Regions from separate parts of the Homo sapiens genome. Here regions 1, 2, 4, 5, 6 and 7 are each reported to be linked to region 3. The links are microRNA targets in miRTarBase. Many come from high-throughput screens and were not tested one by one. Region 3 holds a microRNA gene; each other region holds the end of a gene's coding sequence.
Evidence for each region. The annotated mature microRNA hsa-miR-4271 reads GGGGGAAGAAAAGGUGGGG and lies in region 3 at 2,444-2,462, shown strand. An mRNA with a match to its seed (bases 2 to 7 or 8) in the 3' UTR can be bound and repressed. Matches are read on the target gene's strand: a 7mer-m8 pairs with bases 2 to 8, a 7mer-A1 pairs with bases 2 to 7 and ends in A, and an 8mer does both.

Region 1 (4,346 bases), not on the chromosome of region 3:
CAACTCTTTCATATGGGTGCGATCTTCATCCCCATTTCCTGGAAGGGGGACACCAGACCCAGAAAAGCGAAATCACCTGCTTCAGATTGCTCTTATGCTGCCTTCAACTTAAGGCAAAAAGAAGATGAATTTTCCAGCTGGGCACAGTGATTCATGCCTGTAATCCCAGCACTTTGGGAATACAAGGTGGGCGGATCACGAGGTCAGGAGTTTGAGACCAGCCTGGCCAATATGGTGAAACCCCATCTGTACTAACAATACAAAAATTAGCTGGGTGTGGTGGTGTGCCGCTGCTAGTCCCAGCTACTTGGGAGGCTGAGGCAGAAGAATTGCTTGAACCCGGGAGGCAGAGGTTGCAGTAAGCCAAGATCGTGCCACTGCACTCCAGCCTGGATGACAGAGCGAGACTCTGTCTCAAAAAAAAAAAGAAGATTAATTTTCCAGTTGTGATGGTGCTATAAAATAAAGCTCGTTGTTTTCAAAAGCTAATCCTGGGTTGGGCATGGTGGCCCACGCCTGTCATCCTAAGCACTTTGGGAAGCCAAAGTGGGTGAATTGCTTGAGCCCAGAAGTTTGAGACCAGGCTGGGAAACATAGCAAAAGCAGTCTCTATGAAAAATACAAAAATTAGCTGGGTGTAGCAGAAGTGCCTTGTAGTCCCAGCTACTTGGGAGGCTGAGGCAGGAGGATAGATTGAGCCCAGGATGTTGAGGCTGCAGTGAGCTGTGATCGTGCCATTGCACTCCAGCCTAGGCGACAGAGTGAGACCTTGTCTCAAAAAATAAAAATAAAAAAGCTAATCCTTTTAAGGAAAAAAATTAAATAAATAGCAGTGTGAGGAATATTTGAATAAAGCAAAAATTGTGACGGTAGTACTCAAAAGCGCCAAGATGGTGAGACGCTGCTTCAGGGTCCCTTGTGCTCTGTGTAAGTTTCCCCACCAGAGAGTAAATTTGTTTGACTCATCACTGCTGTTCATCCTGACATTTATGAAAGGCTCTTCAAGTTTTCTGGGATGAATGAATGAAGGAATGATTATGAGGCAGTCCTAGGCTGCAGGAGGCTGTAAAAGGTGGATTGTCTCACTTGTCTGTTTTCCACACACCCGTCCTTCCCCAAAGTTATCGGGAGCCCACTGGGTGAGCCCCTGTCCCAGAATCTGGTGTTCCATGTGGAAGATCCTCCTCCATGCGGAAGATCCTCCTCTGGTCCCTGCTGCCCCGGCAACCTGGGCCCTCAGGCGTGGCTGGGCTAAGGGTGGGGCCAGGAGTCAGGCAAAGGAATGTGCACTACTCCTGGCCAGCTGCCAAAGAGATATCAGGAAGGAGGTGGTTGCTATGGCAACTGGGGCATCTTGGGAGGTGAAGAGAGGTGATAGGTCCCGCCACCCCAGGCTGGGTGGGGTCCCCTGTGAGGTCCTGTGTGAGATGCAGGTTTCAATCTTGACCCTCTCCCCTCCTTTTGCACCTCCTGCCGTTGCCCCTGCAGGACTGGCTTCTGGCCAAGCTAAGGGTCCATTTCAGGGATAGGGACCCGGACCCAGCTGTGCTCATGCATCCCTCTTCTGTTCACTCCTAACTCTCCCTCCTGTTCTCTGGCAGGGTGGAGGGAGACTCTCCCCTCTTCCCCCCTCGCTCCCCAACAATTCATTAATTAGTTTCCTTAAGCAGCTTGCAATGCACAACATGCTTTTCCTCCCCCGGGGTTTCCCGAGACCTGCGGTCCCCTGTCATGCTGTGACTGGGAAAGGGGGAGGCAGAGGAGGTTGGGTTGAGGAGTCTGTCCTCCCACCTCTGCCCGTCTGCTGCCATCGATCCTGCTAACCACCACCTCTGCAAAAAGAAGCCCTGGGCTCCCGCCAGGCCTGCTGCCTCAGCCCTGCCCCCCTCCCTAGGGTAGCTTCCAGCCTCTGCAGCCCCCCCCACCCCCCGCCCTGCTTCGGATTCTGCAGATATGGCTCAGTGCAGCAGCCCCCGCCTGCTGGGAAGCGCGGAAGGGAGGGAGCCATCCAAGTGGAATTCGGGTTCCCTTCACTGCCAGGGGCTTCTCAGCACCCCTGGTCCCCTGCCCTCAGTGCTGGAGACCCTTGCTGGGCACTGGCTCCCTCTTGAAGCAGTCTGTGCCTTGCTCATCTGCAGAAGCAGGATTAGCAGTGGGGGCTATTAGGGGGCGACGGTAGAAGTGGGTGTTTAAGTGGGTGCATAACTGGGTTAATTGGTGTGGAATGGAAATCAGTGTGTGGCTGGATGGGGGCAGTAGGGGCAGCTAGGTGTATACCCAACAGCACCTCTGGGATTGGAAAACACCCCTGCTGTGGGCTGGAAGGAGGGTCCCATCGCCCCATTCCCACACATAGGGTCTCACTGCAGTGGTTTGGGCCCCACCCCACATGGCTCCCTTCTTCTCTTTCTACTCCCCTCTCTCCCCATGGGTCCGTCTCTCTCCCTCCGTCTCTCTGCTTCTCTCTCCATAGCGGTCTCAATCCCACTATCTCCCAGGCTCTCATTTTTTTTTCTCTCTCTCTCTGCATCTCTGTCTACTGCTCTCAGCCTCTCCCCTCCACTGGGAATCTCTCTGAGTCCATCTATTTGTCTTCCTGGGTCTTTGTATCTGTGACTCTGGATCTCCTGCCTCTCTTGGTCTCTGTCTCTTCCAGGTTCTCCCTGTCTGTCTCTTGCTATATCCCTTCTCTCTGTCTCTTCCTTCAGCTCTCACTCCTTTCCTCTGAACCTGGCTGTCAAGGGTTTCAGGAAACAGACACCCTAGGAGACAGCACTGGAAAGAAGAGGGACATGAACCTCCTCCCCTTCCCTTGCCCACCCCAGGGACCCTGAAATCTTCCAGAACGTCTCTGGTCGCAGACCCACCCGCTCCCACCCTGCAAGCTCATCTCTTCCCCGTCTGCTACCACCACGGTGCGGGACCAGCCACCCGGTTGCCATAGCGACCTGTCCGAGCATCCCTTCTCCCGGGACTGCCACTCTCCAACCGCAGGTCTGGCACAGGACGCCTGCCGGGGAGGGGGTGTCCCAGAGACCCGGAGGGGCGATCGGGGGGGCGCATTACAGGGGCTTCCGCCCACAGGAGGAGCGGACCTCCCTCCCCCAACTCCCTTGCCTTACCATTGCTTGAATCTCCCGACACCCTCTCTCCTAGGCTCTCAGATCCCGGAGCCCCCCTGCAACCCCCTCCCCAAACGACGCTCACCCTTTGTGGGGGTCTGGGTCGGGGTCGCCATGCTGGGCCGGAGCAGGGGGCTGCTGGATGCTTTGGCGGCGAAGGCGCGCTGCAGCAGCTGGAAGCAGGACGGACCGATGTGGGGGGGAGCTGGGGGGAGCCCTGGCGTGGGGGGGCCTGCAGCCAATGGGGGCCCGGGGAGCCCGCCCCCGTGCAGGCCACCCCCGCCCCCGCCCCCGCCCACCACCGTCGTCCCCGCCCCTTCCTCTAGGGTGGGGCGCCCCCTGCTGGGGCCCAGTGGCGCTGGCGTTTCGCGCTGAGGGACCGAGACCGACAAAGTGCTGTCGAGAGGAACGCACGTTTTATTGGAAGTCTTGGCGGCAGGGGGAGTCTGCGGGGGCAGGGCTGGGGAAGGGGCGGCGGAGGGGGCGGTGGGCGCGCAGGTGGAGCGTGGGAGATGTCAGGTGCCAGGGGAGTCCTGTGAGGGTGAAAAGGGTGAGAGGCGAGGGGGGACGTCCAGCCCCACCCCTCGCCGCCCTTCAACTCTGGCACTTGGCCCCCTCCCTCTCCCGCCTTTCCTTCCTCCCTCCTTCCCTCCCACCGCCGTGTCAGAGCTGCAGCACCTGGCCGGATTCCATCGCTCCAGGTGTTTCTACCGCCTGCGGGTGGACAGACCTGGGGGGAACACGGAGATCGGGGGTCATTCTGGAGAGGCATCCCCAGCTCCTGGGCAGGTGGGGCCCGCGGCGGGGCAACTCCCCGCCCTCCGCTTTCAGATCCAGCCCTTCCCTCTACGCAGCCAGGGAGGGCCGGGAAAAGCGGTCCTTGGAACCAGCCCTCTCCCCAGAATACCCGCAGTCTCCCCAGACTCACGGCGGATGGAGCTGCGGAAAGTTCCCTCCTCTTCATCGGGTTCCCCAGTCCTGGGAAGACAGAGGCAGAGGGATTTCGGGATGGAAAGGGGGAGAGGCTGCCCTTCTAGGAACCCCCCAGTACAAGCCTCCTTTCCCAGATTGGTGTAACTAGGCCCAGATATGGACGAAGAGCAGGCTCGGGGTCCGCCAGAAATGAGGAGCACCCAGGAGCAGCTTATGTGCTGGCAGGGGGCTTCTAAGCTGGTTAACAGTGAGTACCTCCGCGGATTTGGGGGCAGGGATGTGAAGTTGGTG
Region 2 (4,285 bases), not on the chromosome of region 3:
GTGGCACCGAGAGGACTCTAAGATACATGGGCTGTGTCTTTCCTTGCCCTCCCCCAAAGAATGAAGGTCCCTTTAGGATCACCTGACCGCGGCTATTGTCAAAGACCACCAGGATCCGAACCCAGGGAAGAGGCCTTCCTTGCCAGCATTCTTTCCTGTGCATGACATACTTTGAGCTTTGCAAAATGTTTTCAAAATTGTTCTGAGCCCTTCCTTCCATGCAACTTCCTTAGGAACACAGAGCCAGGATCGGAAGCAAACAATGGGACCAGACTCTTCTAGTTAAAAGATCATTGAGACGATATTGTCCCACCTTTTTGTTTTTCACATGAGACATGCAGGTCCAAGGAGTGAACAGAGATGCCCAGGACCATATGACAAGTCAGCAGCAGAGTTGGCGCCAAAGCCAAGACAGCCAGCTATTAGCTAATAGCTGGGTTCTCAGTGCAGCTTGGATTTCAGAGTCAGACGGACCTAGGTTCAAATTCTGCCTTTACAATTACTGGCCATGTGACCTTGGGCAAAGTATCTAACCTCCTGGGACATCTGTTTCCTTGCATGTAAAACAGAGATGGTCATATCTCCCAGGGCTCAGCAAAACCACATATGGAAAGTGCTTAACACAGTGTGTAGAATAAAATACAGCCTGATGAATGTTCACCATCATCATCATTGGTGTAAACTGTTATTGTTATTTGAGGAGGCAGTCTCAGATAAATTGAGGGTTGGGCTGCGAAACCGTGGTCTGCAGGGCACAGACAGGCCCTGGCCCATGGCCACTCCCAGCGGTGCTTAGCTATGTCCTCATTAACAGCTTCCCTGTCTCTCCACAGGCTAGTGGAGCTCTTCTCCACGGTGCCCATCGGCTCCCACTGGGGGGTGCTGTCCAAGTGCTTGGCGTACAGCAAGGCCGCATCCGACCCCTTTGTGTACTCCTTACTGCGACACCAGTACCGCAAAAGCTGCAAGGAGATTCTGAACAGGCTCCTGCACAGACGCTCCATCCACTCCTCTGGCCTCACAGGCGACTCTCACAGCCAGAACATTCTGCCGGTGTCTGAGTGAAGGACCGCGCTCCTGCTGAAGAGTTTAGAATGAGGCAGCGGTGAGAAGAAGGGTGGGAGGGCGTGGGGGCCCCTGGGTGGACACCACCAGCCACCAGTCCCTGGCATGCCCAGTGATCCTGGTTCCCTGGCTTGTAGGGGCTCCAGAGCCTGCTTCCTGGTTCCTCAAGGGCAGATATTGGACACTCCTTATTTGTCACCAAAGGATGACTGTAGGCCGTGTGCTGGCCTTTCTTTCTAAGAAGCTGCTTTGAGCTCCTGGACTCACCTGAGGCTCCCTGGGGGATGACACTCAGTTCTGTCACTGTCAAGGATGCAGAGAGCTGGTGGTAGGTGGGAAGCATGGTGTCCACCTGCCTGCTGACCACTGGACGCTGCTCCATGCTGAAGAAAAGTGACAGTCTCCAGGGGACATTTCAGCCATGCTGAAAGGGAGGCTGGCAGTGGTCATTTGGCCCGGATCTAACATGGCACCTCGTCTCCACAGGGTAGTGGTGGCTGCTTCAACCCAAATATTATTCAGCTGGTACTAACGACATTGTGCCCAGCTGGGACTCTTGGGCTCTGTGCCTGAGGGAAAATGTTTCACAACTAGTGGCTGCCCAATTGCTGCTGACCAGTTGTCTTAGAAATGGTCAATTGGATTCAACTTTAGTCCTCTCCTTCCCCCTAAAAGCGAATGTTTGTGTGTGCAGACAATCTTAGCATGAAAATGGTTTAAATAGGCTGGTCCTACATGTATTAGGTTCTTTCAAGTTTGACTGGGAGGTCACCTTTTTCTGATTTACAAGTCCTAATTGTTGGAGCTCAGTAAAGGTAGGAGGAAGGTGGCTGGTTGGTCCTCCCTTCCCCCTGTTTGTGACCTGAATTTACAGGAAGTGTTTCAACTTGTCTTATGCATCTTATCTGGCATGTCCTGGGAGATGGATGGGCAAGAACTGGCCTGAGCAGGGATTTTTGCCTTGATTTTAAGTCACTGGGTTCCATTGTCCTGGCACCTCCATTTCCTTAGTTTCTGTAAGCCTGTTAACAGAAAGTAGAGGCTATTCAAGGTTATCAAGAAAGTGCCCTGTGCTAATGATGAGACAGTGAATTTTTTTTTTTTTTCGAGATGGGAGTTTCACTCTTATTGCCCAGGCTAGAGTGCAATGGTGCGATCTAGGCTCACCACAACCTCTGCCTTCCAGGTTCAAGTGATTAGAGACAGTGAAATTTTTATGGAATACTGCACCTATAAAACACATGCCAATCTGTTAGCAGTCCTGACTTGATTTAATAAAAACCAAGGAGAGCCACCCCTGCTTTCTGGCCATCTCTTCTTTGTCTACCATTTCAAATTGACTTGTGAATACTCAGAGCAGTTATTTTTCAATCCTCCACTCTAAGTGATTCCTCCAGGGTGGGAAGCACGGGGAGCAATGGAATCAGATGGCTCATTCTCTCCTTCCAGCTCTTTACATCCTAACTTTGGAGGTATAGAAGGAAGGATGTGGTCCAACGGGAAGGAAGTGAAGAGTCTATTGGTTTTTACTTCTAGGCAGTCCCAATTTTTAAAGGCAGAGAAGTATCTGCATCTTTATTTGAAAAGACGTCTTATTAACTCTTAGCTCCTCAGTTAGAAAACAATTCACCTGGCTTAGTCTTGTCTAGTTTCAAAGTTACCATGGAGACTAGAATGGAGACAGGTGTAGCTTCCAAGGAGGCCTTGGCATCTTGCAGTTGCTGTCAGAGATGGGCTCATATCTGCTTGGGGAAGCCAATGGGGCACAATCCTTCCCAATTTCATGATCTGGGGCATCATGTCGGTAGCTGAAGTCAGCCACGGTGGGAGTGTTTATACCATGAAAATCAGCAAGTGCTGTAAATCAGGCCTTTTGCCCCACAGAGAGCTGATTGTGAAACATCTACTAGCACACCACTGCCAGACATGACTGTGTGTGTCCCTGAAACAAAATTGCTCTGGCTCAGAGCTCCTTTGGCCACTCATATTACAATAGCAACAGACATTTGCTTCCTGGTGGCAAGTAACTGTGCACCCTCCAACATCCCAACCCCAGAGGAACCAGTGGGATTGAAAACCAGCAGAAGCCAAGACAGGATGCACAGCTGAATTGGAGGAGAGTAGCTCCCTTCTCACACAAACGCTTTCAAAGTTGGGCAAAAGTGGCCCAGTGCGTGAGGTCAGTCAACAGCCAAATTCCAGCAGCAAAATACATTTTCATCAATATCACTTTGGGAGAATAACTGTGGCACATGCTCTTTCTGCTTTCTCTGTACTGTATAGGCAACATGTTGTACTCCCAGTAGCAACTAGATCTCTTTTACCTCTTCTTTAGCCAAGAAGCAAGATCTGTCACCCACAACACCACATATCTTGAAAAGATGCTTTTCATAATTTTCACTATACCTCTAAAACCAATTGTACCGACATCACGTAGACAAAAACTCCAGATAAATCCATTGATTGGGTATTTTCATTATTATTTGGACACATGAATTAAATCCCAAGGGAAAGTGAGAAGAAAATTAATGTATTAGCAACCAGTGTTAGCCAACTCTGCTGTAATTACCTTTAGATAAATGTTTATTTTCATCTCTATACAGTCTATCAAATTTGCCCCCTGGCTTTATTACTCCCAATTGAATTATCTACCTCATTTTGTTAATTTAATTTATCAAAGGTAACATTGTTTTCTCAGGTATAACACATAGAAACACCAAGATTTTCAGCATCTGAATCAAACTAAAATTACTTGCTTGACTTCACTCCAGGGTGAGACTTGACCTTTAAGGCCCAAACTCTGGTGAACTGTTGGACTGGGTAGAAATCTTTCAAGAAGCTTGAAAATAAGGCCATAAAGGAGGGGCTTTCAAATTCCTAAATCCACATATAGGGCTGAGTTCCTAGTCCTACACAATCAGAATTTGCCTTTTTAAGTCACGCTGCAACTATTCCGGCTTTTTATATGGCACCTTTCTGAGGGAGGGGATTTTACAGCCGAGGGACCTCCAAAGGGAACGTCCATTTGCATGTGTGCCCTGGTATTTAGGGTTTGTCTCATGGTCAGCTCGCCTCTCAAAGATGGCTCACCAATCACCTGCCTGTTTTTACTTAGAAAGCAGGCTTGGGCAGGAGGGGAAATGGATTTGAACCATCTCAGACCAACTCTATCTCTTCTAGCACTCAGCTCAGCCTCCTGTCCCCATGAGCAATAAAACTC
Region 3 (4,346 bases):
CCTGGCTCTCAGGGATGACAAGACACAATGTGAAAAAAAAACAAGGAAACAAGGTCTTTAGGGTAATAAACTGCTGCCCAGCCAGGAGCGGTGGTGTGTAACCTGCAATCCCAGCAACTTGAGAGGCTGAGGTAGAATAATAACTTGCGCCCAGGAGTTTGAGACCAGCCTGGGCAACAGAGTGAGGCCCTGTCTCAAAAAAAAAAAAAACAAAAAAAAAAAACAAAAAAACCTCCCTGATGTTGGTGAAAGCCAAGGAAGATGGTGGGTAGAGGCAGTAATGACTTCAGTTTACCTCCTGGGGCTACTGGAGGAGACTCAGGCCACTGAAGTCACAGGCTGGCAGGGATTTTACTTTGTGGCCCAGGGGGTGTACCCTACCCTCACCAGGCCTCCCTTTCCTCCCTCATAACCTGGAGATCCTTCAGAAACAACAGCTTCAGGCAGCACCCACGGTTATACATCCCTTTACTAGGAGCTGTAGTATGAGTTTTTTAAAAACAGGGCACATTGGCATGGTTTGCCTGTAAACCCAGCACTTTGGGAGGCTGAGGCAGGAGGATCACTTGAGACCAGGAGTTCAAGACCAGCCTGGGTAACAAAGCAAGACCTTGTCTCTATTTATAAAAAATACTACTACTAATAATAAAAAGACAAAATAAAAAATAGAGCACATGTAGTTCACATACAGGACATTCAGATTTGTATGTAGAAAAAAAGTCTGACAGGATGTATGCTATACTATATCTATATTAACAGTGGTTATCTCTGGGTGGTAGAATTATAGGAAAGCTTTTGACTTCTAATTTTTCTCCTAATCTTTTTTTTTTTTTTTTTTTTTTTTTTTTGAGACAGAGTCTCATTCTGTCACCCAGGCTGGAGGGCAGTGGTGCGATCTCGGCTCACTGCAACCTCTGCCCTCTGCCTCCTGGGTTGAAACAATTCTCATGCCTCAGCCATCCAAGTGGCTGGGATTACAGGTGTGCACCACCACGCCTGGCTAATTTTTTGTGTTTTTAGTAGAGAAGGGGTTTTGCCATGTTGCCCAGGCTGATCTCGAACTCCTGACCTCAAGTGATCTGCCCGCCTCAGCCTCCCAAAGTGCTAGGACTAAAGGTGTGAGCCACTGTGCCCAGCCCTTTTCTCCTAATCTTTAATTACTGACCCCAGCTAAATTACTCTCTCCTTTTTGCCTATGTCCTGTTTCCTAAAAATTTAAGCTCAATCACCATGTCCTAGTGGCCACCATCCCTTGCCTTCAGGGACTCAGTGCATCTAAACATTGATGACATGACCTGATTGATGTATCTATCACCTCACAAGATAATCAGTTGTATGAGGGAAGGGACAGGTTTTGTTAACATTCAGTTCCCTAATCAATGCAGAGTCTGAGCAAAACATCTACCAAATAAAAAGATAAGAGTGTTTTGGCCGGGAGTGGTGGCTCTTGCCTGATCCCAGCACTGGGAGGCCACAGTAAGTGGATTACTTGAGACTAGGAGTTCGAGACCAGCCTGGACAACACAGCAAAACCCTAATACAAATATTAGCCAATCATGGTGGCGTGCACCTGTAGTACTAGTGTAGTACTATGGCTACTTGGGAGGCTGAGCTGGGAGGATCACCTGAGCCCAGGGAGGTTGAGGCTGCAGTGAACTGTGATCGTGCCACTGCACTCCAGCCTGGGTAATATGATGAGACTCTGTCTCTCCCCCCAAAAAGTGGTGGTGGTGTTTTTTCTTTTGAGATGAGGTCTCGCACAGTTGCCCAGGCTGCAGTACAGTGGTATGATCATAGCTTGAACTCCTGGGCTCAAGTGATCCTTCCACCTCAGCCTCCCTAGTAGCTGGGATTATGGGCACACACCACTGTGCCCAGCTAATTAAAAAAAATTTTAAGAGACAGATCTCGCTATGTATGGTACCCAAGCTAGAAGAGAGTGTTTTTTGTTTTTTTTTGAGATGGGAGTCTCACTCTGTCCCCCAGGCTGGAGTGCAGTGGCAAGATCTCAGCTCACTGCAACCTCTGCCTCCCGGGTTCAAGCAATTCTCCTGCCTCGGCCTCCCGAGTAGCTGGGATTACCGGCGTGCACCACCACGCCTGGCTAATTTTTGTATTTTTAGTAGAGACGGGGTTTCACCATATTGGTTAGACTGGTCTTGAACTCCTGACCTCATGATTCGATCTCCTCGGCCTTCCAAAGTGCTGGGATTACAGGCATGAACCACCGTGCCTGGCCGAGAGCATTTCTTATATCTGAGATATTTGCTGACTCAGACCCATGTGAAGGACCTATCTTCCCAAGGACAGGATGGACTTGCCCACTGTACTCACCAATCATATCAAGCAGATCCTTTGTGACCTCTTGGCTAGAATTGTTGAGTGGCATGTTTGAGTCAGCCTTCAAATCTCTCTCCATATCTTTCCTGCAGCCCCCAGGTGGGGGGGAAGAAAAGGTGGGGAATTAGATTCTCTTTCAAGAAAATATTGAAGGGAAACTCAGTTTTAGATAATCTCAAAGACAAAAACTTACTGGTGACCTTGTCATTTATGCTTTGATTAAAGGACAATTGGAAACTGCTACATCAGTGGAGAAATTGACTAACAGCTTTACCATAATGACTCACGAGCATCGCAGACTGTATTAAATTTTTTTCTTTTTTAGAGACAGGGTTTAGCCATGTTGCCCAGGCTGGTCTCGAACTCCTGGGCTCAGGCGATCCACTCGCCTCAGCCTCCCAAAGTGCTGGGAATACGGGCATGAGCCACCTCACCCAGCCTGCATTTGTTTACTTATTTATTTATTTTTATTTTTTATTTATTTTTTTGAGATGAAGTCTCGCTTTGTCCCCCAGGCTGGAGTGCAATGGCGCAATCACGGCTCACTGCAACCTCTGCCTCCCAGGTTCAAGTGATTCTCCTGCCTCAGCCTCCTGAGTAGCTGGGATTACAGGCGCCTGCCACCACGCCCAGCTAATTTTTGTATTTTTAGTAGAGATGGGGGTTTCACCATGTTGGCCAGGCTGGTCTCGAACTCCTGACCTCAGGTGATCTGCCCGCCTCAGTCTTCCAAAGTGCTGGGATTACAGGAGTGAACCACCGCGCCTGGCCTGTTTGTTTTAAAGACAGAGTCTTGCTCTTGTCGCCCAGGCTGGTGTGCAAGGGCGCAATTTCGGCTCATCGCAACCTCCTTCTCCTGGGTTCAAGCGATTCTCCTGTCTCAGCCTCTGGAGCAGCTGGGATTACAGGCGGCCGCAACGGCACCCAGCTAATTTTTCTATTTTTAGTAGAGACGGGGTTTCACCATGTTGGCCAGGCTGGTCTCAAACTCCTGACCTCAGGTGATTCATCCGCCTCAGCCTCTCAAAGTGCTGGGATTCAGGCGTGAGCCACTGTGCCCAGCATTTTTTTTTTTTTAAGATGGAGTCTTGCTCTGTTGCCCAGGCTGGAGTGCCATGGCAAGATCTCAGCTCACTGCAACCTCTGCCTCCAGGATTCAAGCAATTCTCCTGCCTCGGCCTCCCAAGTAGCTGGGATCATAGGCGCGCGCCACCACGCTCGGCTTATGTTTGTATTTTTAGTGGAGACGGGGTTTCACCAGACCTCAAGCGATCCACCCACCTCAGCCTCCCAAAGTGCTGAGATTACAGGCGTGCCACCACACCCGGCAAGGCCTGCACTGCTTATGAGTACCAATATAAATATTTGTGGAGTTGAAAGGAAAAAAATTCTTGTGGAGTTGAACCAATTAAATGGCCTCTTTATCCCCTTCCTATGAAGCAGCCAAGATGGCAGAACTTTGAAGTTTTTTTTTTTTTTTTTTTTTTTTTTTTTGATACGGAGTCTCGCTCTGTCGCCCAGGCTGGAGTGCAGTGGCGTGATCTCGGCTCACTGCAAGCTCCGCCTCCCGGGTTCATGCCATTCTCCTGCCTCAGCCTCCCGAGTAGCTGGGACTACAGGCGCCCGCCACCACGCCCGGCTAATTTTTTGTATTTTTAGTAGAGACAGAGTTTCACCGTGTTAGCCAGGATGGTCTCGATCTCCTGACCTCGTGATCTGCCCGCCTCGGCCTCCCAAAGTGCTGGGATTACAAGTGTGAGCCACCGCGCCCGGCCTGAAGTTTCATCTCATACATTCATCCCTTCTCCAAGTCAAGGTGCCTGGGACCAGGCAATTTCAAGTTACTCGGGAGAAGAAAAAGTCTAGAAGAGACCTGGTGATGGTCCAAAAAGATCTGGGGTAAGAGCGGGGAGCAGAGGCAAAGATGAAGCCAGGAAGTAGGGCCCAGCCTTCAATTAAGCCTCTCCCTAATGTGGGCAAAGGAGGGTATCAAAGGCCCCAGTGTC
Region 4 (4,346 bases), not on the chromosome of region 3:
AAATAGCTTGCTCAAGGTGACACAGGTCAAAGTTATCAAACCTGTCATCCTCACTCCAAAGCCAGTGATCATCTTGAGGGCCCTCAGCATTTCAGAGCTGAGTTCCTGCTCCCTCTTGACCTCAGACTTGTCAGGGGAACATTTGTCCTGCCAAACTCATTTCTTTTCCATTTTTGATGTGTGTGTATGTGTGTGTGTGTGTGTGTGTGTGTGTGTGTGTGTGTATGCTTGTGTATGCACAGTTGGGCTTTGAGGTCACAGATAGATCACAGATTGTATTTTGGGATTGCCCCCCAACCCAAGTACGTACCAGAGTTCTAAAGAGCAGGGCTCCTCTGAGTGGGTGCTCCCACACCGCCACCTCTGGTCTCTCATGGCCTTCTGTGCTGCCTCCCACCAGGTGCACCCCAGACATGGATGTCATCCTCAACATTCCTGTGGAAGAGCCACTACCCTTCTAGATGGCAGTGCCATGGGCCGCCCTCCCCTCCTGCTCTCTTCCCAGCACCTGGAGCCTTGGATCATTTACTTCCAGGACCGGATCTCCATTCAGACCCTGATCTACAGTCTCCCTGCTCCCTCTGCCCTTCCTCCCTCTTTCTTTCCCTCCCTCCCTCCCTCCCTTCTTCCCCCCTTCCCTTCCCTCCTCCTTCCTTCCTCCTCTCCCTCCCTCCCTCCTTTCTTTCTTCCTGTGGTTTTTTCCTCTCTTCTTCCCTTCTTTCTGGTTGGTGCTGCTGGGCCAGGTGGGAATTTCTGATTAAATCTGCTATTCCTTTTTTACCAATAAAGCTGGATTTACATTTGCTTTTTTGCCAGTGTCTCGGGGTCCCCAGCTAGGTCTTGCAGAAGATGTGGTGGGAACGGACTTCGTCTTATGATAAGGGGCGGGCAACTGTGCTAACTGCATCTGGGGCTCAAAACTTCTCCAGAAGAAGTGCTGGAGCAACCCCCTGCCTGAGTCTCCATGGCTCAGTGGCTCTGGGCCACTCCCTCCTGGTGCAGTGGGAGCCCAGCTTCTCTCCAATCTGTGCCCAGACCTATTGAGGGCATTGTCGGGGCTGACAGGCTTATTGATTTTAATACCCCTGGAACTTGCTAGGCCTTCAGTGCTTGGAACAACTCAGAAGGGCTACTCTGGCTCCAGAACTTCCTGAAGGCTCAGCTGCAACTACCCTTGGGCCTGCACTGCAGCTGAACTTCTCCCTGTGCCCAATCCTGCATATTTCTGTCTTCCTCAGTTGTTGATTCCAAGAGCACTCATTACTCAACATTCTGCACCCTACACTCCATCTCAGAGTTGGCCTTTCTGGGCCAACTACTAGATTGCTACAACCCCCAAGAGGCTCTGGTCACTCACAGATCCACTTTGTGTTAAGATACTTGGTTACAGGTAACAAAACAACCAAATCACATTGGCCTAAACTATGAAGGGCTCAGGTCAATAAATAGCTTAGGTGAGGCTTTGTCCAGAAATCAAGTGATGGCACCAAGGACTTGGTTTCTATTTATCTACTTTGTTTTCTGAGGTGTTGCCCTTTTCTTCAGGTCAGCACTGCTTGTGGCCCCAATATGCCAGCATCTCCCAGGGTTGTACAGGTCCTTGTACATGTCCTGTTGGAAAGAGAGAGACTGGCTGTGTCCCAGAATTTTCAGCCAGTGTATTAAGATTCACTGTAATTGGGCTGGGCACAGTGGTTCACGCCTGTAATCCTAGCACTTTGGGAGGCCGAGGTGGGTGGATCACTTGAGGTCAGGAGTTCGAGACCATCCTGGCCAACATGGCAACACCCTGTGTCTACTAAAAATACAAAAATGAGCTGGGCGTGGCAGCAGGCACCTGTAATCCCAGCTACTCAGGAGGCTGAAGCAGGATAATTGCTTGAACCTGGGAGGCAGAGGTTGCAGTGAGCTGAGATTGTGCCACTGCTCTCCAGTCTGGGTGATGGGGGATGAGACTCCGTCTTTAAAAAAAAAAAAAAAAGATTCATTCTAATTGAACCAGCTTATATTACACGCCCACCTTGAGCCGGTGTTGGAGGTGGAGCGTGCCTGCTGGTTTAGTTCAGGTCACGGGCTCTACCTTGGAGCAGGGAAGGGATGGTTAAGGTGGAACACGTGACCTAGGCTGAGCCAACAGGTACTCCCCAGAGCCATGTGGATCTCCAAGCAGAAATGGACCCTGTTGAACACAATAGCAAACACTTCAATGGAACCTACGTTATGCTTTACATACATCAACTCACTACACCCTCACAACAACCACCCTGTGAAGTAGGTATTGTTTATTGTTATTTTCATTTTACAGATGAAGAAACCAAAGGATGAAAAGGCAAAGTGATTTTTCAAGTCACCAGGTTACTAAGTGGCAGAGGCAGTTTGCTCTTAACCACTGTACAATCAGGAGCTCAGCTGAGCAGGAGAGAGCTGAACTGCTAAGTGCTGGAGTAGCTGATTAATGATGGCCCGGCATGGTGGCTCAGGCCTGTAATCCTCACACTTTGGGAGGCTGAGGCCAGTGGGTTGCTTGATCTCAGGAATTTGAGACCAGACTGGACAACATGGTGAAACCCCATCTCTATAAAAAATATAAAAATTAGCTGGGCATGATGGTGTGCACCTGTAGTCCTAGCTACTAGGGAGACTGAGGTGGGAGGATTGCTTGAGCCCAGGAGGCGGAGGTTGCAGTGAGCCGAGATCGCACCACTGCACTCCAGCCTGGGTGACAGAGCGAAACCCTGTCTCAAAACAAAAAAAGTCAAAGCAAGTAATAGCCAAGCCCCAAATCTCTTATTATTACAGTACAAGAAAGAGGCTAAACCAGAGAACCTGGTTTGTTTTATTTTGTAGAACACAGATCCACCTGTTCTAATTTCCTCATAGAATGATGCCAACTGGGGTCGGGTGGATGAGCACAGGTGTGGGGTTGGTCTCACTGCAGAAAAGCTTCCAACAAAAAGGCTCCTGAAGTTGTACGGACCTGGGGGCCAGGGATGGGGTGGGGAAGGGAGAGTGGGAAAACTTCTGAGTCAGCATGGAGGAAAGTGTCTTCAAGGATTCTCCACTCCCCAAGATAAGGAGGTCCTGGCCGAAGGCCTACCCCACTGCAATGAAGACGTGTCTGAATGAAGACTTGGGTTGGGAGCGGAGATGTGTGTGAGAGGTCGACTGTCCAGGAGGCCTGAGTCTGTGTCTGCAACTGTCTTTAAAGACTGCAACGCATCAGCTGTGCACGACTCAGCTGTGAGGCCTGCCAGGTAAAACCTGTCATTGCCTGTGTTTGGGCTGAAAAATCACACATAGGTTTTTAGCCAGGAGCTGGACTGTTTGTGAAGGGATGCATGAGTTCAGAGGAGGAAAACCAAGAAAGGAAGCCTGGACATAGGTTCCCTCGCATTGCACGTAGCCCTCATGCCTCCGAATGCGCCAGAGAGTGACCCCGCACATGTACAGCATCTGTACATGGGTGTCTTCCCAGGTACTCAGAGCCGCGTGCGCAGCTCTCACAGGCAGATACACCTGCATGCACATGCACATGGATGCATACTGGGACTGTTTCTTTTCTTTTTTTCTTTTTTGAGACGGAGTCTTGCTCTGTCGCCCAGGTTGGAGTGCAGTGGCACAATCTCTGCTCACTGCAACTTCTGCCCCCGGGTTCAAGCGATTCTCCTGCCTCAGCCTCCTGAGTAGCTGGGATTACTGAGGCCCGCCACCATGCCCAGCTAATTTTTGTATTTTAGTAGAAACGGGGTTTCACCATGTTGACCAGGCTGGTCTCCAACTCCTGACCTCAGGTGATCCATCCGCCTTGGCCTCCCAAAGTGCTGGGATTACAGGCGTGAGCCACTGCTCCCGGCCCATCTATCATTCTTTATTGGAGTACCGGAGGGCAGCAGGAGTGAGAAAGAAGAGGTTTATGGGAACCCGAGGTTGAAGGGGAAATCAGCACTGGATATCACCTTTAATGGGAAGGACAGGCAACTGGGACGTCTCCAGAGCACTTAATAAGCTGTAGAGGTACTATTTAGATGACCAGACATTATTATTATTTTTAATGTAGTTTTTATTTTTATAGATTTACGGGGTACAAATACATATATTGCATAGTGGTGGAGTGGGCTTCTAGTGCCCCATTACCCGGATAGTGAATGTTGCACCCAATAGGTAATTTTTCAACCCTCACCCCTCTCCGCCTCCCATCGTTTGTAGCCTCCAATGTCTATTATTCCAATCTATACCACACATTACTTTTTAATTTTAGTAGGAGTTGGTTGAAAACCCTATTCTGGGGCTCAGTGAGTCCGGCTAATTGGGTAAATGGAAGTTTCATGGAATTTCCTGTTCCCTAA
Region 5 (4,346 bases), not on the chromosome of region 3:
CCCCTTGGGTCTCCTCCCAGGCCTCTCCCTGCCCCAAGGAGGCGAACAGGGCTCTGCTTAACGACAGCTCTTGCTGGACCATCATCGGCACCGAGTCGGTGGAATTTTCCTTCAGCACCAGCCTGGCGTGTACCCTGGAGCCGGTCACTCCGGTGCCTCTCATCAGCACCCTAGAGGTGAAGCCGGGCGCTAGGGGCGTTGGGCAGGGGGACCCTGCCTGCACTGGGCAGTGGTGGTGCTAGTGAGTGGGGGGCAGCGGGTTCCCGCCCTACTTGGTTCTCTCACCTCACCTGGTCCCACCCTCCCCCAGCTGAGCGGCGGGGGCGACGTGGCCACGCTGGAGCTCCACGGAGAGAACTTCCACGCGGGGCTCAAGGTGTGGTTTGGGGACGTGGAGGCAGAAACCATGTACAGGTACGGGGTGGTGAGGCAGCCTCTCTTGGGCCCCGGGGAGCAGGGGAAGGGGGTGCACGCGTCGTCGGAGTCGCCGCAGCCCTCACCCTGGTGCTCCACCCCCAGGAGCCCGCGGTCCCTGGTGTGCGTGGTGCCGGACGTGGCGGCCTTCTGCAGCGACTGGCGCTGGCTGCGCGCTCCCATCACAATCCCCATGAGCCTGGTGCGCGCCGACGGGCTCTTCTACCCTAGTGCCTTCTCCTTCACCTACACCCCGGAATACAGCGTGCGGCCGGGTCACCCCGGCGTCCCCGAGCCCGCCACCGACGCCGACGCGCTCCTGGAGAGCATCCATCAGGAGTTCACGCGCACCAACTTCCACCTCTTCATCCAGACTTAGGCGCGCCCGGTAGCCCCGGCTGCCCACCCTGGAGGGCTGCGCCCGCGCCAGGCGCGGGGACGTGTTTCTGGGTTCTAGGCCCTGCTTCCTTGCCCCTTTGCTGCAGAAGGGCAGCTGAAGGCTCACCCTAGAAACCGGGCCTGGTGGGTCTTACCCGGCTCACTCCCTCCCTTGTCCTTACACATACAGGAAGACAAGACCTGAGTGGTGCTGTCTTTGTGTCCGTCGTGTATGGCTCTCCCTGTCTTCATTTCTTCTCACTCTGTCTCTAAACCTCTCTCTCTCTCCCTTCCCCCTCAGTACTTAGTCTACAGACCTATGTGCGTGTCCCTATCCTTCTGTCCTTTTCTCTCTTCAGCTCTCCCTGCCTCTCACACACAATTTTACATGCCCCGAGGAGCCAAGTTTGGGACATTTACCCTCCAGGCATCTGTGTCCCCTCTTGAAGAGAAAACACACAGCTTCACACATCCAGGCATAGGGGGCAAGCTCTTGGGGCATCAGGACCCTGGAGCACCAGGTCCTTCCTGGAATATTAGATCCACCTGGAGCACCGGGTCTCTCTAAGTCTCACCTGGGGAATTCGGTCCCACCTGGGGCACCAGTTCCCACCTAGAGCACTGTGTCCTGCCCTAGAGCACAAAGACCTGCTCCTCCCGAGACTCTCTCTGACTGCAGCCAGGCATAGTACCTTTGCCTGTGTTTGCTCCCTGGTCCACAGATTTGGTGGCTGGGCAGGTGCCTGGACAGTGATGAGGTCTTGCCGCCTTAACTGTCCCCCCCAGTCACTTCTCCCACAGGCCCAGCAGGACGCAGTCCTGAGGATCAGGGATTCTACAGCTGCATTAAAATCAATCCTATCCAAGGCAGAGTTTGGTCTGTATGAGCCACCTCCCCAAGTGTGCCTCCCCCAACCCTCGCACCAACACACAAAAGAGGGGACCTGCACAGAAAGAAAAGAACCACAAGTCTGATGGAGCAGAGAGCCTACCTTTTGGACGTTTTCTAGAGGAGGAACAGGGTGCAGAGGCAGCTGGCATCCTGAGTCCCTGTCCCTGCCCTGGGGTTGTTACCCTACTAGCTATCTCTCCATCCCAAGCAAGGGTGCACCCCAGGCCCAGAGGTGACCACGGGACCCTTTCAAAACAAAGCTTTCCCAGGATAGCCCTGGGCAGAACTCCTGGGATTGACTGGGCAGTAATGTAGTTGAGAGGGGGGCCTCTCTGCATGGGGCTGATGGACAGAATCACAATCTATTCCCCACCAGCCTACCCACCCTAGGTACCACTCTACCCAGTCTGTGCTTTATAGGGAAGGAAAAAAAAACCAGGCAGAACACTGGCTTGGGCTATTGGAATCAAGGACACAGATAAGTATCATGGGTGCCAGCTACCTGCACCAGCCTCTGGTGGTGCCTGATGGGAAAACTGGTCTGAAATGTGGGTTCTAGGTTCTAACCCTCTGGAGAAGAGCTTGCCCTCCTAAGGAAGAGCTCATTTCTTGTAAAACTCCTCCCCCAGGGTATGGAAAGTCCCATGAGAAAAAAGAAACGAACAATACGCAGAGGAGAGGAAATGGGGTATGTTCTTTAGCCTTCCCAAAGTCTTGACTAAGTTCTGCCATCTGCCATCAGCAGGCTGCAACCCACTGTGAGGGGTGAGGAAGAAGCCTGTGGCCCCTGAAGGTGAATCTTGGCTGAGGAAGGCAGCAAATGAGTTGAATGGGAAATGTCCCTGAAATGAGCGCCTGACTCACCGTCCATGGTGGTGTTGAAGCAGGCAGCCAGGAGGGAGGAGGCTGAGAAGAGTGTCATAGCGCACCACATGGGGAATTGGGGCTCAAGCGCTCATCGTCCAGCCCTGCCCCCAAAGTCTTCCTCCACCACTCCTCAAGGCAGGAGTCCCAGAAGCCAATAATCTAGGTTGGACCAAAAGCCCAGACCCAGCCATACAGCTCTGTCTTAGTCCTCACCCATCTCAGGGGATCCTATAACCTTTGGTGTCCCCAAGGTATCCATCTGGAAGTCTGTGACCAAAGCTCCAGCCCTGGCCTAGCTTCTGAGTTCCAGCTGCTGAAACTGTCCTTGGAGGTCTTCCTTGCACTGAGTCTGAAGCCATCTAACATCAAACTCCTTTCCCTCTCCACCTGCCTTGCAGCACCACCTCTAGCTCCTTCCCCCACACCACCCAGTCACCCAGGCCTAAGGATCCCACCCCCACTTCCACACTACCATATGCCTCCTGTTTTCCTCTCCCTCCACTACTGCCCTGCCAGGTCCTGTGTCGCCTCTTCCAAAATTTCCCAAACTACTCTAGGTAGAACTAGCTATATAATTTGTGGGCCCCAGTGCAAAATGGCCCGTTGTTCAAAAATTATTCAAGAATTTCAATTCGACTGAACACGGGATTAAAAAAAAAAAAAGAACTTCAAGACAGCCACAGGAAATGATGAAACCAAGTGCAGGGGCCTTCCAAGCACAGGCTGCACAACCACGAAGCCAGCCCTGGCCCCAGGCTTTTTTCTTGTATTCCCACAGACCCTCAATGGGACCATATCGACTGCCTGCTTTGGATCAAAGGTTTTACCTACATGCCCATTGTCTCCTCTAGGCTGCCATCTTCATGGGGAAAGGAGCTCTTATCTCTGCATGTCCTAAAGGGTGCATCACAATGCCTCGCATGTTGAGTTGGTGCTCAATAAACAGTGAATTGCATTATATGGCATTGGCAGATATTTAGATATTGCTAATGCAAAGTGAAACCGGCAGGTGGCACTGTTCTCCACCCGAGCATTAAGTTCTCATTTTATTTATATTTAAAAACCGGGCCTTAATCCCAGCCCTTTGGTAGGCCGAGGCGCAAGGATCACTTAAGCCCAGGAGTTCGAGACCACCCTGGGCAACATAACAAGACCCCCTCCCCCATCTCTACAAAAAAATGTAAAAATAGGGCCGGGCGCAGTGGCTCACGCCTGTAATCCCAGCACTTTGGGAGGCCGAGGCGGGCGGATCACGAGGTCAGGAGATAAGAGACCAACCTGGCTAACCCGGTGAAACCCCGTCTCTACCAAAAAATACAAAAAATTAGCCAGGCGTGGTGGCGGGCGACTGTAGTCCCAGCTACTTGGGAGGCTGAGGCAGGAGAATGGCGTGAACCCGGGAGGCGGAGCTTGCAGTGAGCCGAGATCGTGCCACTGCACTCCAGCCTGGGGGACAGAGTGAGACTCCGTCTCAAAAAAATAAAAAAATAATAATAATAATTAGCCGGTGTGGTGGTGCACGCCTGTAGTCCCAGCTATGGGGTGGGGGCGGGGGGATGCTGAGGAGGGAGGATCACTGGAGCACAGGTAGTGGAAGCTGCAGTGAGCTGTGATTGTGCCACTACACTCCAGCCTGGGTGACAGAGGGAGACCCTTTGGGGGTTTATGCACAGAATTCTACATACTTCCAGGGAATTTCCTAACACTAAAACCCATTTATGGATTAATTTAGTCCTCTTTATATTAGAATCATTTGCCACGCTATAAAAATTAATATACCGGGCCGGGCGCAGTG
Region 6 (4,346 bases), not on the chromosome of region 3:
GTCTGTGACTGGGTGGAGGAGCTGGGCAGGGGGGCCTTTCCCTTTTGTATCCTCTAACAAAGACTTCTTCCTCCAGGGCATGTATATCTTCCTGCACACGGTGAAGGGGACACCCTTTGAGACCCCGGACCAGGGCAAGGCGAGGCTGCTAACCCACTGGGAGCAGATGGATTATGGGGTCCAGTTCACGGCCTCTCGGAAGTTCTTGACCATCACACCCATCGTGCTGTGAGTGCCTGGGCTACAGGAAGACACCAGCAGGCAGGGCAAGGCCTGGAGGACCCCAGGGCCCAGCCATGCTTATTAACCCTGCCGTGGCTCCTGGTGTAGGGATGAACAGAGGAAGTTGGAATATTCCTGGGTCTTACACTGGACTCAGGCTTTGGGCCTCCCTGGCCCCATCTTTCCTCCATTGGAGCTTCCTTCCTGCTAGTGAGATAGGCCTACAGGCTTGGGGTGAAGCTGGGAGGTGGGGGCGGTACTGGGCCAGGAGGGGCCCCTTTAGCCTGAGAGCTCTTGCTTCTTACGCTGGTCTGGGAACCTCTTCTGTAACTCCTTAGCTGTTGGGATTCTGCCTTTCCCCTCCCAGGAAGTGAGGGAGGAAGGGGTCCTCCCAACAGTCTTTTATATCTCTCCCCACCCTTCCCCTCCCAGGTACTTCCTCACCAGCTTCTACACTAAGTACGACCAGATCCATTTTGTGCTCAACACCGTGTCCCTGATGAGCGTGCTTATCCCCAAGCTGCCCCAGCTCCACGGAGTCCGGATTTTTGGAATCAATAAGTACTGAGAGTGCAGCCCCTTCCCCTGCCCAGGGTGGCAGGGGAGGGGTAGGGTAAAAGGCATGTGCTGCAACACTGAAGACAGAAAGAAGAAGCCTCTGGACACTGCCAGAGATGGGGGTTGAGCCTCTGGCCTAATTTCCCCCCTCGCTTCCCCCAGTAGCCAACTTGGAGTAGCTTGTAGTGGGGTTGGGGTAGGCCCCCTGGGCTCTGACCTTTTCTGAATTTTTTGATCTTTTCCTTTTGCTTTTTGAATAGAGACTCCATGGAGTTGGTCATGGAATGGGCTGGGCTCCTGGGCTGAACATGGACCACGCAGTTGCGACAGGAGGCCAGGGGAAAAACCCCTGCTCACTTGTTTGCCCTCAGGCAGCCAAAGCACTTTAACCCCTGCATAGGGAGCAGAGGGCGGTACGGCTTCTGGATTGTTTCACTGTGATTCCTAGGTTTTTTCGATGCCACGCAGTGTGTGCTTTTGTGTATGGAAGCAAGTGTGGGATGGGTCTTTGCCTTTCTGGGTAGGGAGCTGTCTAATCCAAGTCCCAGGCTTTTGGCAGCTTCTCTGCAACCCACCGTGGGTCCTGGTTGGGAGTGGGGAGGGTCAGGTTGGGGAAAGATGGGGTAGAGTGTAGATGGCTTGGTTCCAGAGGTGAGGGGGCCAGGGCTGCTGCCATCCTGGCCTGGTGGAGGTTGGGGAGCTGTAGGAGAGCTAGTGAGTCGAGACTTAGAAGAATGGGGCCACATAGCAGCAGAGGACTGGTGTAAGGGAGGGAGGGGTAGGGACAGAAGCTAGACCCAATCTCCTTTGGGATGTGGGCAGGGAGGGAAGCAGGCTTGGAGGGTTAATTTACCCACAGAATGTGATAGTAATAGGGGAGGGAGGCTGCTGTGGGTTTAACTCCTGGGTTGGCTGTTGGGTAGACAGGTGGGGAAAAGGCCCGTGAGTCATTGTAAGCACAGGTCCAACTTGGCCCTGACTCCTGCGGGGGTATGGGGAAGCTGTGACAGAAACGATGGGTGCTGTGGTCCTCTGCAGGCCCTCACCCCTTAACTTCCTCATACAGACTGGCACTGGGCAGGGCCTCTCATGTGGCAGCCACATGTGGCGTTGTGAGGCCACCCCATGTGGGGTCTGTGGTGAGAGTCCTGTAGGATCCCTGCTCAAGCAGCACAGAGGAAGGGGCAAGACGTGGCCTGTAGGCACTGTCTCAGCCTGCAGAGAAGAAAGTGAGGCCGGGAGCCTGAGCCTGGGCTGGAGCCTTCTCCCCTCCCCAGTTGGACTAGGGGCAGTGTTAATTTTGAAAAGGTGTGGGTCCCTGTGTCCTCTTCCAGGGGTCCAAGGGAACGGGAGAGGTCACTGGGCCTGTTTTCTCCCTCCTGACCCTGCATCTCCCACCCCGTGTATCATAGGGAACTTTCACCTTAAAATCTTTCTAAGCAAAGTGTGAATAGGATTTTTACTCCCTTTGTACAGTATTCTGAGAAACGCAAATAAAAGGGCAACATGTTTCTGTTTCCCTGTGTCTGGCCTTCGCTTCCTGGAAGGCTGAGGGGAGGGGGCAGGGGTGTGGGCAGCGGCTCCCGCTGAGGTGCTGGTGGGGCATCAGTGCAGCTCTGACGGTGGCAGGAGGGGCGCTGGGACTGCTGGGCTTTCTGCTGGCTTCAGCAGGGAAATCCCCCAAGGGGGCTGTGAGGGAACTGGCGGCGGCAGCGGTAGTCAGAGAGCAAAATTCTCTGTGCTTTTGCCTGGCTGTTCTCCGACAGGTCTTGCGCCTTGGCCCCAGAGGCTGGGGTGACCTGTGCCATGGCCAAGGAGGGGGACACTCCAGCAATGGTTTACACGTGGAGCCAGGGTCCCAAGTGGTGCTCAGTCCTTCCCAGTGAATCCCCAGCCCTTCTCCAGTTTCTCACTTCTCTCCCCAAGGCCTTTCCCCAGTCACCTCTCCCTTGGGAGCGCTGCGTTTCCTTCTGGCCTTTCAGTGGAGGGGACTTTTCATACTTCCTCCTCCCACCATAAGCCTGAGTGGCAGGGGAAGAGGTTCTGGGGACTTTCTGAGGCCAACATGGCTAGGAGAGAGAGGAGTCCTATAGCAAGGAATCCTTATCTCACGAGGGCACTGACCTTCCAGCGTGTTCTGGGGAGTATCAGCTGCTATTCCCAGGAGAGGCACAAAGTCCCAGGTAGAAGGGAGGAGCTGTCCCCAGCAGCCTGGGGTCTCTAGCCCCGGTCCACCATCACAGCACCCTTGGAGTGAGTGTCAGGGAGTGTGGGATATTTGCCCAAGTCCAGCCACCACCCCTGTCCGAGTAGAGCCCACACAGTATTGGAAAGAGAAATATAGCCACTGCTTTCACTCCTGGGAGTAGGGGTGCCCTGGTTGCTTTCACCAGCCTGCAAGAGTATAGTCAGGGTGAGGTGCTGGAGAACATCAACAACGATCTGGGTTCAAATCCCAGCTTTGCCACTTATTAGCCATGTTGCTGTGTCAACTTCTCTGAGCTTCAGTTTATTCCACTGTTGTGTAAAGATAATGCCTCTTAGGGCTGTTGTGAGCATTAGCACAGTGCCTGGCATATAGTAAATACTCAATATATGGTAGCCATATTATTATAATTGTAATTGTTACTACCACCACTGTCGTCTATTTATTTATTTATTTATTTATTTTTTTGAGACTGAGTCTTGCTCTGTTGCCCAGGCTGGAGTGCAGTGGCACCATCTTGGCTCACTGCAACCTCCGCCTCCCAGGTTCAAGCAATTCTCATGCCTCAGCCTCCTGAGTAGCTGGGATTACAGGTGTGTGCCAAAACATCTGGCTAATTTTTTTTTTTTTTTTTTTTTTGGTAGAGACGGGGTTTCGCCATGTTGGCCAGGCTGGTCTTGAACTCCTGGCCTCAAGTGATCTGCCTGCTTCGGCCTCTGAAAGTGTTGGGATTACAGGCATGAACCACCACGCCTGGCCTGTCATCCCTTCAAATGTTCTTTCAGAACTGAGGCATGCAGAGGCTGGAAGACAGGCTGGGCTCACCGGGGTGGTTATCTCTGAGAGAGGACATGGGTGAGGTCAGAGGCCTCTCCCTGGAGAAGGAGGTAGGTGGAGAAGCCAGATGGCATCCAGATAAGGAAGACCAGCATCTCCTTGAGAGTGTACACGGGAGCACGAGATGGGGAGGGAGGCTGAGTGCTCCTTACAGGCCCACCCTGTTGCCTCCAGGTGTTAGCTGCTGTTGTCCTGGGTCTTCAGTGTTGACCGTCGCATGGCATTTGGGCAGCTGGTTCTGCTGGGTTATGGTCCTCATGTCCCTGGCACAGACACAGCCATTGCCTGCTGGCACTTGATACCTACTCATATTCCATTTCTCTATTCCAAACACACTGGATTGCATGGCCCAGGGCGCCACGGTGTGCACCATTGTCTGGCCCACACTCACCTAGAATACATACCAGGATCTCCTACCCACTCCTTAGGTACAAGAAGAAGAAGGGGTTCTGGCCGGGCATGGTGGCTCACACCTGTAATCCCAGCACTTTGAGAGGCCGAGGTGGGTGGGTCACAAGGTCAG
Region 7 (4,296 bases), not on the chromosome of region 3:
GCAGCAACAACAGCAGCTCTGTGGAAATTATCCAACAATACACTTTGGTAGCACGAGTTTCAAAAGGGCAGCATCTGCAATTGAAAAGTCCATTGGGATTTTGGGAAGTGGCTCCAATCCTGCCACAGGCTTGTCTGGTCAGAACGCTCAGATGCCCGTTCAGAACTTTGCCGACAGCAGCAATGCAGATGAATTGGAACTGAAATGCTCTTGCCGGCTGAAAGCCATGATTGTGTGCAAAGGCTGTGGGGCCTTCTGCCATGACGACTGCATAGGTCCTTCAAAACTTTGTGTAGCATGCCTGGTTGTACGATAAGAGCTGAGTGAAAGATGCAGTATCCCTTTTCCACACGGAAAAGCCAAATAGCATCAGCAACAACAAATAGAATAATGCAGTGGTTTCTATCATGCTAATTTATTTTGCTTTGGAGCAGGTACCTTTCCTCTATGGCATTATTTTCTTGCATTTCTCATAAAGGGGAGGATGCATCCCAACTGAATGGCTCACTGGCATGTCTTTTATGTGTTCAGTTGCCATTCCTAGCTTTGGAAAGTTTCTATCTGTCCATGTGTATACAAGTCAATGCCCCATTTTTGTTTTTCTTTTAACCGAGGTGTAGATAGGAAAAGGACATTTTTAATTACTTAATAACCGGAAATGCAGATGTGTAAGGAGAATGAGAGGAATGAGTTAAAGTGGTTATGCATTTTTCTATAGATGAGCCATTACAGCAAGGAATTTTACAGTTGACTTCTCTGAACCTAGCTTTACCACAGTGATTAAATCCTATTTAGAAAGGGGAATCTGATTTAAATGTGTGATTCCTTGTATTTGCTCCTATCACAAAAGATATATTAAAGGAGGTATGCCATTAATGAAATCCACTGTCCTGAGTATTATCTTTCCTCCTGTTGTACTTTCTCAGAGACTATGGCAGAATATCTGGATCTTCCTTGGATTTTGTACACATATTGTAGTGAAATGTGTCCTACATCTGAAATTGCATGGGACTCATGCCCAGCAATCTGGTTCTAGGCCTTTGACACCTGATAATATGAGAGCAATTGGCCAGCCAATAGCCATAAGCCCAGAGGATTTTAGAGCTTCATGTGTGGCTTTTAAGAGCAGGTTTGAAAAAAAAAAAAAAAAGACCCTAAACTTCAAAGCAAGGAAATAAGATGCTGTATATGCACACATAAATGCATTGATAATGTAAATATCCTATTCACGCTAATGAATTACTAGATATTAAAAGTGGGGGGTGGAAATCATTGTAGCCCTTTATTGATGACACCCATTCATTCTGGCTTCAGACCTTGCAGAGGTTGGCCATATCTTTTTAAAAGTGTCATTGATGATAAAAGGGACTACCCAAGGCTAAAGCGTCAACATTTTTCAGAACAATTGCTTTTCTCATTATTTACAACCTATATAATTCAACTTTGAAATAACCCTTATTTTGAAAAAAACTGTTCTAGGTATGGCATGTTTTGTTTTTTCCCTCAGGTATATTCAATACATTCTTCATATTTGGGGGAACTGCTTTTGAAAAAGGGATACTGCATCTTAACAGTTATCTTCAGTGTGCATCCAGTAAAGTCTGCGTGTTGAGTATTTGAGCTACATTCCATATATTTTGGCCACCCTCATACCAGAGGACAGCCGTAGTTCAGGAGGCTCTGTTTTCAAAAGCAAGTTCAAAAGCACATGCACATTGAGGGAAGATGAAAGAAAACAAAAACCAACCATGCCCATTTAACTTCAGATTACAGAGCACAAAATGTGGAGTGCCATTAACCCATTGATTGATTGTGGCTGTAGAATTTAAAAAGCAAACATGGGGGGGGTGGGGAATCATCTGTATCCAGGGTAAGAATGACCAATATTTTCACATGGGATCATCCTAATCACTGTAAACTTTTTGACATTCCCGTAAAACACGTCTTAAAAGTTGACTGGAATGAGCAGAAATTACATTCCTGAAAACAAGAACACTTGTGATTTTTTTATAATAACCAACTATATAATATGTTTTTTTCTCCGTATTTATTGTGATGTTGCCAAATTTCTTTCTTTAGGTGATAGAGACATCATTTCGAATAACAAATTGCTGATAGTGAGAGGTACTTTACTTTATCTTAGAAAGAAAGAAAAGGCCTGCTGCTGTAGCCATGATTTTGGTGCTTCAGTACTGTCATTTCTGTTTTTCACAGTAAAATTGGCAAAACTAATGACTGAGAAAGTTAGTTAGCAATGCACTTAACCAGCCTTACCCGAGGAAAGCAGCATAAGTTCCAGTGGATCCTTAGTTTTCTCTTCACTGCCTGCCAGGTTGTGTTGGGGTGGCATCCTTATCAGTGGTGTCTTTGTCTGCCTGGCTCTGATATCATCCTGATTTCGAAGATCATGCTGTTAGTCTCACAGCGGGGCACCCCTATAATATAGACACTTGCATGCCAACTCCTTCCAAATTCATTCACTGCTATACCAGTGTCAGATACTGTCTACACCAGCAAATTGAAAACCATCACATCAGTAACTGACATGGTGTCGGAAGAAACTCCAGTCTACAGAACCTTTGCACTCAGTATGTGAGGTACAATTGAGGCTGATGAGATACTGAGCTCATTATCAGTTCCTTCATTGTTGAATACTGCCTGCAAGTTGCTTATTGGGAATAAGAAAAAGTGTCCTTCTGTATGTTTTGATTTTTCACATAACAGGCTTGGAGAATCAGTTGTTGATAGTGCATGGATTCTATCATCCAGGTCCGATTAGCATAATTTTTCTGCGCCCTTTTTTTTTTTTTTTTTGCTCCAGTTCAAATTCCTAGTGTTCTCATATGGTTTATATTACTGAAAAATTAATATCTTTAAGCTAAAATATAAGGGAAAGGAAGAAGAGAAATTTAGATGTAAAATGTGGGTCAGATATTTTATAGGTTTCCATTTAATATATATATACACACAAAATCCAGTATATTCTGAGTAGGTTCTTAGTTTTCTGATTTCTACATGTGTCTGCTATGTGCAAATGTAGTATATTATTTACTACATGGTTATTGTGGTGTAGTGTGCAAATGTTAGCATGTGCATTATCCTGATTACTGGACACAGTTTTATTCTTATCAGGAATAGAACTTGCACATGTACCATACAATTTTTTTTTTTTTAATCACAAAGGATGTATTTCCCTAAGTAGCACTTTTGGAGCAGGGGAAGGAAGAAAACTGCTATTCCCTAATCCTCCTCCTATAAGATATGCATATGCCTGAGGTGTATAAAGACATTTAGGTTAGTTAATGGGCATGTTAATAAGAGCATTGTGATGCAAATTCATTTTCAAAATGAAAATAATTTTTTCTTCCCCAAAATGAGAATAGTAGAAATTTTGGTGAACTGAGCACCATAGTTATATAATATTTCCCTGCGAAGGTCTAGTTTGAAGAAAAAAAAAACTTGAAAACAAACCTATGAGGTTGAGCCTGGTTGCTATAAAGACTTTGGGATGGTATGTGTTTCTGGGATGAGCTATATAGAAAGTTTAGTTGACTGCTGGACCTTGGATATTCTTACTCGGTTCAAAATACACAAAAACAAGCTGGTACATATGGTGCTTTATAATGCAGTCGAGAGTAAGAATACATGTTGCTGTAGCCCCATTTCCTTTACAAACCCCCGCACAATTTCAAAAGTGGAAGTTACCGTGGCCTCTGGTTTCCCAGTTCCTCCGTGGTGTAATGAAGTCCCAGGTTTTAGAAGCTGAAGCCAAGCCTAGGGTAGCATCGTCTGTACGGTGGTGAGGCCCAGCACAGCGGTAGCTGCCTAGTGGGAATGACCCCCTGAGCATGCAGAGCCCAGAGTCACTGTCCATCTGCGTTCCCAGAGAACAATTGTGAAGAGTCCTAGAACAGGAACTCTGAATCAGACTGTCAGGGGCCTATGTAGCCAAAATGTTACTAAATATAAAATTCCTGTCGTCTTCAGTCTTCATGCTTTGTCACTGTAAAAAGAACAAAAAGCATTTTTACTATAATTTAAAGGAGCTGCTTTTTTATAGCACATACTATTTCGCTTTGTACTATATTTGATAGTTGCAGAATAATTTAGACTGTAGAAAAACTTTGTTGTATTTGTACTGTTCTTGAATGTTTCAAAGAAAGTGCTTTACTTGGTTGCCATAATTTTCTTGTACTGCTGTATTCCCCTCCTTCCCCTGCTTCATGGAAACCTGATATGATACATATTTTCAGTAGTTTTTTTTTTTTAATGTGTGTTCGTTTGTACAATTTTTTT

Region 1: the mRNA of FXYD1 is a reported target of hsa-miR-4271. Seed matches in the 3' UTR shown: 8mer at 3,584-3,591.
Region 2: miRTarBase lists GPR26 as a target of hsa-miR-4271. Seed matches in the 3' UTR shown: 7mer-m8 at 1,727-1,733 and 7mer-m8 at 1,910-1,916.
Region 4: miRTarBase lists C20orf96 as a target of hsa-miR-4271. Seed matches in the 3' UTR shown: 7mer-m8 at 626-632.
Region 5: the mRNA of RBPJL is a reported target of hsa-miR-4271. Seed matches in the 3' UTR shown: 7mer-m8 at 1,082-1,088.
Region 6: miRTarBase lists ORMDL3 as a target of hsa-miR-4271. Seed matches in the 3' UTR shown: 7mer-m8 at 802-808 and 7mer-m8 at 933-939.
Region 7: the mRNA of ASXL3 is a reported target of hsa-miR-4271. Seed matches in the 3' UTR shown: 8mer at 3,364-3,371 and 7mer-m8 at 4,211-4,217.

What each region holds. Positions count from the first base shown.
Region 1 is chr19:35,142,226-35,146,571 of GRCh38, reverse strand. FXYD1 (FXYD domain containing ion transport regulator 1) reads right to left here. Exons shown (of 8, transcript NM_021902.4): 6 at 4,051-4,100; 7 at 3,801-3,852; 8 at 3,463-3,655. The coding sequence ends at 3,830. It overlaps FXYD7 (FXYD domain containing ion transport regulator 7), which reads right to left and starts at 3,317. Exons shown (of 6, transcript NM_022006.2): 1 at 3,208-3,317. The coding sequence starts at 3,238. RefSeq lists enhancers at 2,534-3,095, 3,096-3,656.
Region 2 is chr10:123,687,096-123,691,380 of GRCh38, forward strand. GPR26 (G protein-coupled receptor 26) reads left to right here. Exons shown (of 3, transcript NM_153442.4): 3 at 834-4,285. The coding sequence ends at 1,065. Among named protein-coding and RNA genes, the nearest start is that of GPR26, 23 kb to the left of the region's middle.
Region 3 is chr3:49,271,715-49,276,060 of GRCh38, forward strand. MIR4271 (microRNA 4271) reads left to right here and starts at 2,406; the gene lies at 2,406-2,472. It overlaps C3orf62 (chromosome 3 open reading frame 62), which reads right to left. Exons shown (of 3, transcript NM_198562.3): 2 at 2,335-2,426.
Region 4 is chr20:267,322-271,667 of GRCh38, reverse strand. It overlaps C20orf96 (chromosome 20 open reading frame 96), which reads left to right. Exons shown (of 11, transcript NM_153269.3): 11 at 401-805. The coding sequence ends at 461. Among named protein-coding and RNA genes, the nearest start is that of DEFB132, 12 kb to the right of the region's middle.
Region 5 is chr20:45,316,167-45,320,512 of GRCh38, forward strand. RBPJL (recombination signal binding protein for immunoglobulin kappa J region like) reads left to right here. Exons shown (of 12, transcript NM_014276.4): 10 at 21-176; 11 at 311-414; 12 at 520-1,658. The coding sequence ends at 793. Among named protein-coding and RNA genes, the nearest start is that of MATN4, 10 kb to the left of the region's middle.
Region 6 is chr17:39,918,994-39,923,339 of GRCh38, reverse strand. ORMDL3 (ORMDL sphingolipid biosynthesis regulator 3) reads left to right here. Exons shown (of 4, transcript NM_139280.4): 3 at 77-228; 4 at 655-2,297. The coding sequence ends at 790. Among named protein-coding and RNA genes, the nearest start is that of GSDMB, 2.5 kb to the right of the region's middle. RefSeq lists an enhancer at 1-9.
Region 7 is chr18:33,746,280-33,750,575 of GRCh38, forward strand. It overlaps ASXL3 (ASXL transcriptional regulator 3), which reads left to right. Exons shown (of 12, transcript NM_030632.3): 12 at 1-4,296. The coding sequence ends at 316. Among named protein-coding and RNA genes, the nearest start is that of ASXL3, 170 kb to the left of the region's middle.